Linked DNA regions of Homo sapiens. The protein of the gene in region 1 purifies or fractionates together with the protein of each later gene. This does not show direct contact. Each region holds a gene or a part of one and is shown on either strand. Other genes may lie near its edges. The genes, in order: SETD9 and USO1.

Evidence for each region.
Region 2: the proteins of SETD9 (region 1) and USO1 purify together in Homo sapiens (affinity purification with mass spectrometry; 3 studies listed by BioGRID and IntAct, with this or other methods). This does not show direct contact.

What each region holds. Positions count from the first base shown.
Region 1 is NC_000005.10:56,908,193-56,912,495, forward strand, and holds the start of SETD9 (SET domain-containing protein 9), read left to right. Parts: upstream 1-1,403; 5' UTR 1,404-1,453; coding exon 1,454-1,551; intron 1,552-1,864; exon of another isoform or gene 1,865-2,182; coding exon of another isoform or gene 2,183-2,202; intron 2,203-2,233; exon of another isoform or gene 2,234-2,728; coding exon of another isoform or gene 2,729-2,730; intron 2,731-2,976; coding exon 2,977-3,344; exon of another isoform or gene 3,345-4,032; coding exon of another isoform or gene 4,033-4,066; intron 4,067-4,303.
Region 2 is NC_000004.12:75,811,304-75,814,832, forward strand, and holds the end of USO1 (general vesicular transport factor p115), read left to right. Parts: intron 1-856; coding exon 857-1,072; intron 1,073-1,902; coding exon 1,903-1,992; 3' UTR 1,993-2,983; downstream 2,984-3,529. UniProt on the Homo sapiens protein: General vesicular transport factor required for intercisternal transport in the Golgi stack; it is required for transcytotic fusion and/or subsequent binding of the vesicles to the target membrane.

The DNA.
Region 1 (4,303 bases):
TAGCTGGGACTACAGGCACGTGCCACCAACGCTCGGCTAATTTTTGTATTTGTTCTTTTTTAGTAAAGACGGGGTTTCGCCATGTTGGCCAGATTGGTCCCGAACTCCTGACCTCAGGGGATCCACCCGCCTCGGCCTCCCAAAGTGCTGGGATTACAGGCGTGAGCCACTGCGCCCGGCCTTGGCTGAGTTTTTATTAGATCTGAGCCGTTCAATTTCAATAGTTTAGGATCCAACCTCACTCTCAGGCAAAGAATAGAGGAAATGATACCAACGTATTTATCTGTCAATAAACACTTGGTGATTTGAATATGGTTAAGGGATTCCTGTAGTTTGCCCCCCTTAAAACTGAACTTTGTCCAAACCTGTTCTAAATATGTGTGTGCGTGTGCATGCATCTGGGTGTTGGGGAGGAGCGGTCGTAAAGTTCCTTTTAAATTTCACCTATGGGGGACTACTTCCCACCTCATCCTATGAAGTCAACATTAGCCTAAATACCAAAGCCAGATTAAGACACTACAAGAAAACTACGAAACAATATCTCTCACGAACACAGATGCAGAACTTCTAGACAAAACGTTTCCAAATTGAAGCGAAGACCATATTAAAAGGACAAAAGCACCTCAGTGGTTGCTTGGGGACTGGGGGAGGGGCTGGATTACTATCTTGGCTGTGGTGTCGAAAACCTATCAAATTGTTCACTTTAAATATGTGCAGTTTATTGTATCCCAACCATTCCTCAACAAAGCTGTTTTTCAGAAACATTTGTCCATGTAGTTTTGCCTTTGAATGGTTGGGTCAATGAAGAGAAAAACGAGTGAAAACAGGGAATCATGACACTTTGTTTTTTTACGTGTAAATATTCGCAAAACGCCCAAACTGGTAACTTTGGGAACACGGGTTCACGCAGAAGAAGGGCTGCTGTCTGGGGAGGACTGAAACTCGGGTTCCCGAAGTCGGGCTGCTCTGGGGCCACGGAGAGAAGGGGAGAGAACGTCGAGGAAGAGGCAGAGCTCAAGTGGACGGAGGATGGAACACAGAGCGCGGCCGGGACAAAGGGGCAGGCCAGACAGCCGTGACAGAGAAACTAGGCGGTCCGCTCCTGGGACGCGGTCTCGGGGGCGGGTTCGCCCCTGAGGCCCGGTGACCCTTCGCCCGCAACCAGGGCTAGCGCTTGTGTGCGCCCACGGAAGCACCCGAGCGACCGGAGAAAGAAAAAGTGGTCAAGGGGACCTCCTTCCAGCTCTACGCGCCTCTCATTCAGAGAGGTGAGGTCAGGAAAGGGGAAGGACGAAGCCCCAGAGCAACAGAAGTCAGGCGGTGCCAGGAACACTGAGAGCGGAGCCAGGGGAAGGCGGCCGAGCGCGGCCCCCTCTCCTCCCGGGCCGGGGCGGGCCCGAGGCCTCGATCCGCCTTCCCCGCGCCGTCCTGGTCACGGCCCCGCGGGGCAGCCATGCCTGGCCGTCTGCTGCGGGGCCTGTGGCAGCGATGGCGCCGTTACAAGTACCGCTTCGTTCCCTGGATCGCACTGAACCTAAGCCACAACCCGAGGTGAGAGGGCGGGACGGCAGAACGAGGGGCACCTGCCTTCGGTTCCCAGACGCCACCACGGCGGCGGGACGCAAAGCGGAGAGCCTGAGGCTGACTGCCGGCCTGAGATGGGCGGGCCCGGGTGGGCAGGGACTGAGGTGGGCGGGCCGGGTGGGCGGGGACTGAGGCCTCGGAGGGGTTTAAGGAACGCGGGCCAGAGGCGGGCGGGGCCGAGGTTGGTGGAGTCCGAGGCCCGCTGGAAGCCTGAAGTGGGCGGTGGCTTCAGGTGGGCGGGGCCTATGGCCTCTTTCCCAGTGTCCGCTGCGCTGCCGGGCCCGCGAGGCCGAGCTCGCCAGCCGGATGTGTCGCCTGTTCTTCCCTGTTGCGTTCGGCACTGACTGGGGAGCTTGTATCTGGGCAAAAATGGAAACTTTTTAAAAAGACTGCCCTTACCGCGTGAGAGTGCGTGGCTTTTTCTCCACCAGGGGTTAATTAGGTGCTTGAACTTCCTCAGAAAAGCCAAGCCAGGGTTTATTTTCATAGTTCATACAAGTACTTCACGTGGTTAAAGAAGCCCATCCCGGCTGTGAGAATAGCGTGCAGTAGCTCGCGCGTTAAGAACGGGCAGAACGCCACTCAAAAGCACGTCGGGATGGTGGGTTTCGGATTGGGGTGAGTCCCGCCGGCGTTATTAAGGGCGCACCAGTGATCAGCTCAACACCGTGCTCACCAAAGAGGCCGACCGGGCCTCCCTGAAGTCAGTGTCCGACAAATAGGGAAACAAAGCGGTTTCCGGAAGGTTGCATGCTAGGGAAACAGGAGATCAGTTGTATCATGACTCGGAACCGTGAGGCGGGAATTACAACCTTTTTGTTCAAGTAAAAATAATGCAGTTAGTACAAAAAGATAATGATTATGGAAATAAGAGGTGCAGTCATTGAAGACGTTAGTCGTCCTGGAGGGAGTGTCACAAAGTATACGATGTTGAATTTGTCTTTGAAACTACAAGGCCATTTTTAAAAAGCCATTGAATGTGAGGTCATTCATTCTCATTGTGATGACATTCAGCTTGGCTGTTGGGTGTAGTACGGGAAAGAGCTGAACTTCGTTTCTGCCTCTGGCTCTCCCACTTACTGGCTTTGGGACCTTGAACAAGTTCCCTAACAATTTTGCTTTCCTTGTCTGCAAAAATGGAATAATGTAAGGACCCCACAGCATGTGGTATAGAATGGGCCTTTCATAAGTACTGACTACTTGGGTGGGAAGTGTTGGGAGTTAGCTAACTAGAACTCCCTCAAACAATTCTTTTCTGAACTTAGTTTCCAGCCCTCCACACACATGAGAATAAGCTTATAGTTCCTTAAGGCCAGGAACCCAGAAGTTATGCAGGTAAGTTTGGCTTTTATCAGTTGAAGGGTAGTGAATAGAAACTTTTCCCATTTTCAGGACCCTCCGATATGTTCCAGAGGAATCCAAAGACAAAGTTATCTCAGATGAAGATGTCCTAGGAACATTACTGAAAGTTTTCCAGGCTCTATTCTTAAATGATTTCAATAAACAATCAGAAATCTTGTCTATGCTTCCAGAATCTGTTAAATCAAAATATCAAGACCTACTGGCAGTTGAACATCAAGGGGTGAAACTGCTTGAAAACAGACATCAACAGCAAAGTACCTTTAAACCAGAAGAAATTCTTTACAAGACTTTGGGTTTCAGTGTTGCCCAAGCAACTAGCTCATTGATTTCTGCTGGAAAAGGTGTCTTCGTTACTAAAGGATTGGTACCAAAAGGCGCAGTCGTATCTATGTATCCTGGTAACAGCACGATTAATATTATACTTTGCCAAGCTTCTTACGTATTGATAAACATAAGTTCAGTAACATACCCAGCCTTGCAATCCTTAGAGTAAGGGATTAAATTGGAAACTCGAGTTTCCATAGATTTTTGCAATTCTAATTCGGAAATTAACTGTTTGTAAATTGTTTTGTGTTAGAAAGTATCCTGGAGTATTTGTTGGGATAAATGCACTTTTTCTTTCAAGGAAAGCTTTCCTGTCAACGTTTAAATTTAGAACATAGTATGACCCACTTTGACAAATTACTTAAAAAGCACTAGAGAAACATGTCAGTTTGGTTTAATTGATAGCTAAGGATAAAAATGGTATGGATAGGCTCACGCCGGTAATCCCAGCACTTTGGGAGGCCGAGGCGGGCAGATCGCGAGGGGTTTGAGACCAGTCTGGCCAACATAGTGAAACCCTGTCTCTACTGAAAATACAAGAAATTAGCCAGGTGTGGTGGTGTGCACCTGTAATCCCAGCTATTCAGGAGGTTGAGGCAGGAGAATGGCGTGAACCCGGGAGGCGGAGGTTGCAGTGAGCCGAGATTGTGCCATTGCGCTCCAGCCTGGGTGACAGTGCTAGGCTCCATCTCAAAAAAAAGAAAAAAAAAAAGCGTACGGATCAAAACATAAAAGACAACATTTAAACCCATAAGTCACCGAATGAAGACCTTCCTGCCCTTTCTACACTTGGAAAGTAAGGCAATTTCTTGGCACAAGATCATTAACTAGAATGCTAAATAGACTACGTTATGTGTTAAACTAACATTATATTATTTGGTATAGTGGAAAGTGTGTGTGTGAATATTTGAGTCAGATAGACCCAGGTTTTTAAAAATTCATTCTCCTGTTTTCTAATTTTACATCCCCAAACAAGGGAGTTTCAGTTTCCTGCTGTACGAGTAATCTAATTTTGTAAAGACTAAATAGAATA
Region 2 (3,529 bases), on another chromosome or scaffold:
TGCCAACATGCTCAGCTAATTTTTGTACTTTTAGTAGAGACGAGGATTCGCCATGTTGGCCAGGCTGGTCTCAAACTCCTGACCTCAGGTGATCTGCCCGCATTGGCCCCCCCCAAAGTGCTGGGATTACAGGCGTGAGCCACCACACCCGGCCTGTGTTTTCTTTTTAAGATCAACATCTAATCACAATAACAAAACAAGGAGTACAAATTTAGCTAATACACAAGCCACATGTAGGCTTTCCATAAGCCGTGGAACATAGGCACATTAAATCCTGTCAGCATATTATTGTGTGACAGAGACATCAGAATAAATAGCATGAAGAAAGGAATGAGGTCACATTAAGGAAAATAAGGAAAATAATGTATAATTGTGCTTTTTGGATTGTGGCCAAATTATTTTATTTTTAAACCATAGATTTTTATTTGAAGCTATTTTCATTTAATTGTATGCTTGAAGTTGGGATAAAAAATTTTTTTTTAACTTGAGCTTTGAGTTCTAAAATTCTGGTACTAATCAGACTTCTTCTGTAAAATGCTTTGTGTTTCTGTTTACTCCTTTGATTATCTGAAATGGTACTGTTTTTTTTAAGTCTCTTAAAGGTTTTTTCAGGGATAGCTAACTAAAACTATTTTTTGGATGTTAAACTATTTTTTGGCAATAACCATTTTTGATGAACAGTCTAATAAATTCATGTTAGTGTGTGTGTTAAACCTCCTGTACCCTTAACCTCCACCCCTAAATTCCTTAGGTTGAACAAGTACAGTGATTTGTCATAGAAAGAAACTATTTGTTAAAAACTCTAGGAAAGTGAGTGCTAATTTTAGATTCCTGCCTTTCACCTTTCTTTTCCTAGAATGAAATTAAAGCTCTGTCTGAGGAAAGAACTGCCATTAAAGAGCAGCTGGATTCATCTAATAGTACCATTGCCATTTTACAAACTGAGAAAGACAAACTAGAGTTGGAAATTACAGATTCTAAAAAAGAACAAGATGATCTCTTGGTGCTCTTGGCCGATCAAGATCAGAAAATACTGTCATTGAAGAATAAACTCAAGGATCTTGGTCATCCAGTAAGATTAAAATGTCTCCAAAAATGATTTGTATTATGTTTTAGTATAATGCATTTAAAAGATTTTTAATGTAACATGGAAAAGTTGTGCCTGTATTATAGGAATGGATATGTGGGTTCATGAATATGGTACCATCTATACTGTTTTCACTGTTTTCATTGAATTTACTTAATACACAGATTAGGTTCAGTTTTCAGTACTTACAGACTATTTTCTTTTGGACCGTAAGCCTAGAAAGTGAATTGATTTGATTGGTAACAAGACTGTAGTCACCCAAGCATGTCATTATCTTTTGCCATGTTTGTTTCAGATTTGTGTGTAAAGAGGTGTAGCCATTTATCAGCAAAGTTAACTGATATATCTCATTCATATTAGAAATGACAGAGAGCCTTGGCATCAAATCAAAGAAATCAGATGGCTTATATTCTACTGTAGTTACTAGAATACAAAATTTGTCTGGGCACAGTGCTCACACCTGTAATCCTAGCACTTTGGGGGGCTGAGGTGGGCAGATTACCTGAGGTCAGGGGTTCGAGACCAGCCTGGCCAACATGGTGAAACCCCATCTCTACTAAAAATACAAAAATTAGCAGGGCGCTTGGTGGCAGGCACCTGTAATCCCAGCTACTCGGGAGGCTGAGACAGGATAATCGCTTGAACCTGGCAGGCAGAGGTTGCAGTGAGCCGAGATCGCACCATTGCACTCCAGCCTGGGTAACGAGCAAAACTCCATCTCAGAAAAAAAAAAAATTATCAGTAGTATATATTGTTAAATGTTGAATGTGACATGAACAGATTTTCACAATATTAAATACGTCTTTTTCCTCTAGGTTGAAGAAGAGGATGAACTTGAATCTGGAGACCAAGAGGATGAGGATGATGAAAGTGAAGATCCTGGCAAGGATCTAGATCATATCTAGTTTTCAAATCTCTAGGAACAATAGAGATTATATCATAACTCTGAAGATGGACTCTAAACTTTGGTTTACCTCCATGGAAAATAAAGATTTAGAAACCAGGTGGAAAACATTCACTATTAAGACTATTGATATATTTTTGTAATGTTGCCACCCATGTTGAAAACCTTAAAACTGAATTTATGTAGAACACACATCTTTTATTTAAATCCATCTGAACTGTCCCAAAATGTAATTTGCAAAGAGCTTCAAACACCAAAAATATACCATTTTAAGGCATGTGGTGACAATGCTATTTGCCTTAGTTCATTCGTTGTTTACTTTGCAAAATTTGTGACTTTTAAGTACTAACACATTTGATTGAATGTGTATTGAATTGGAATTATTATTTCTAAATTCAGCATTTGAGTCCTTAGTTGATGATTTTCTTTTAAAGAAATTAGTTTATTTAAAAGCAAGATAGCCTGGGTTGGGAGTTAGTGCATATCATCAGCCCTCCATCTAATGTGATTGCTAAGATGTGCAGGATAGGACAGCTTAGAATGAGTGCCTTGACACCTACATATGGCTGCATTCCATACCTCAGTGAAGAAGCCGAAGGATGCTGACACACAGTGATGTGGAGGGCATTCCGGAGAAACTTTTGCAACAGTGTATTAATGTGATTGGTTTTCTTTTTGTTTTAAGCTAAACATCTAAAACAAATTTCAAGTTAACAGTTCATACAACTCAGATTTAGTAGTATTGTTTATCATAAAACATATTATGTTCCTAGTTTTAAAAAGACCCAAAGTATGATTAATATAATTTATTGGCATTTTTGCTGAATAGGTTTAAGTCAGATAATAGATTTTAAAAAAGCAAATGAGGCAATGTGTCAAAATTTAATGTTTCATAATAAAAATAGATACGTTGACTTAATCCTTGGTCATGGTTCCCTTTGTTTACATCTTAAAAGTATTTTATTCTTAATAAAAGATGAGGCAAGTGAAAATGATGAGGCGACTTTTCTTATTAGGGGTACACAACTATAACTGAATGTTAAAAACAATCTTCTTTAAAACCAATGATTATGATTCCCTAAGATTGGAGGGGGTTAGAAGTACAGAAGTAGAAGAGGTTGGAAAAGGGTTTGGACGTTTTTAAATTCAGCACTGGAGTTCTTGGCAATGATTTCCTGTTGAAGAAGTGGGTTTACTTAAAGACAAGATAGCCTGGGCTAGAAAATAACGTATTTATCTGCCTTCTGGGGTCAGGAATAGGACACAACTTTTGAAAGAGAAGGAAGGTCACTGTCTTGATGAAGGAGACAGCTGTGTGTTACAGAGCACTCGTGAATGCTGCACTGTGCCCATGTTCCACCACTACTGCCATCCTAAGGTGGCACTTGCCATCAGAGAAAGAACTATATTACTGTCACCAGACCAGCTCAGATAGGTGAGGTCTTCCTAAAGTTGACAACCACATAATGAACCATGAGTTAATGACTACCTTTCAGGCTAACGTACGGTTAAAGAAAAATGGATCAGGAGTGAGAATT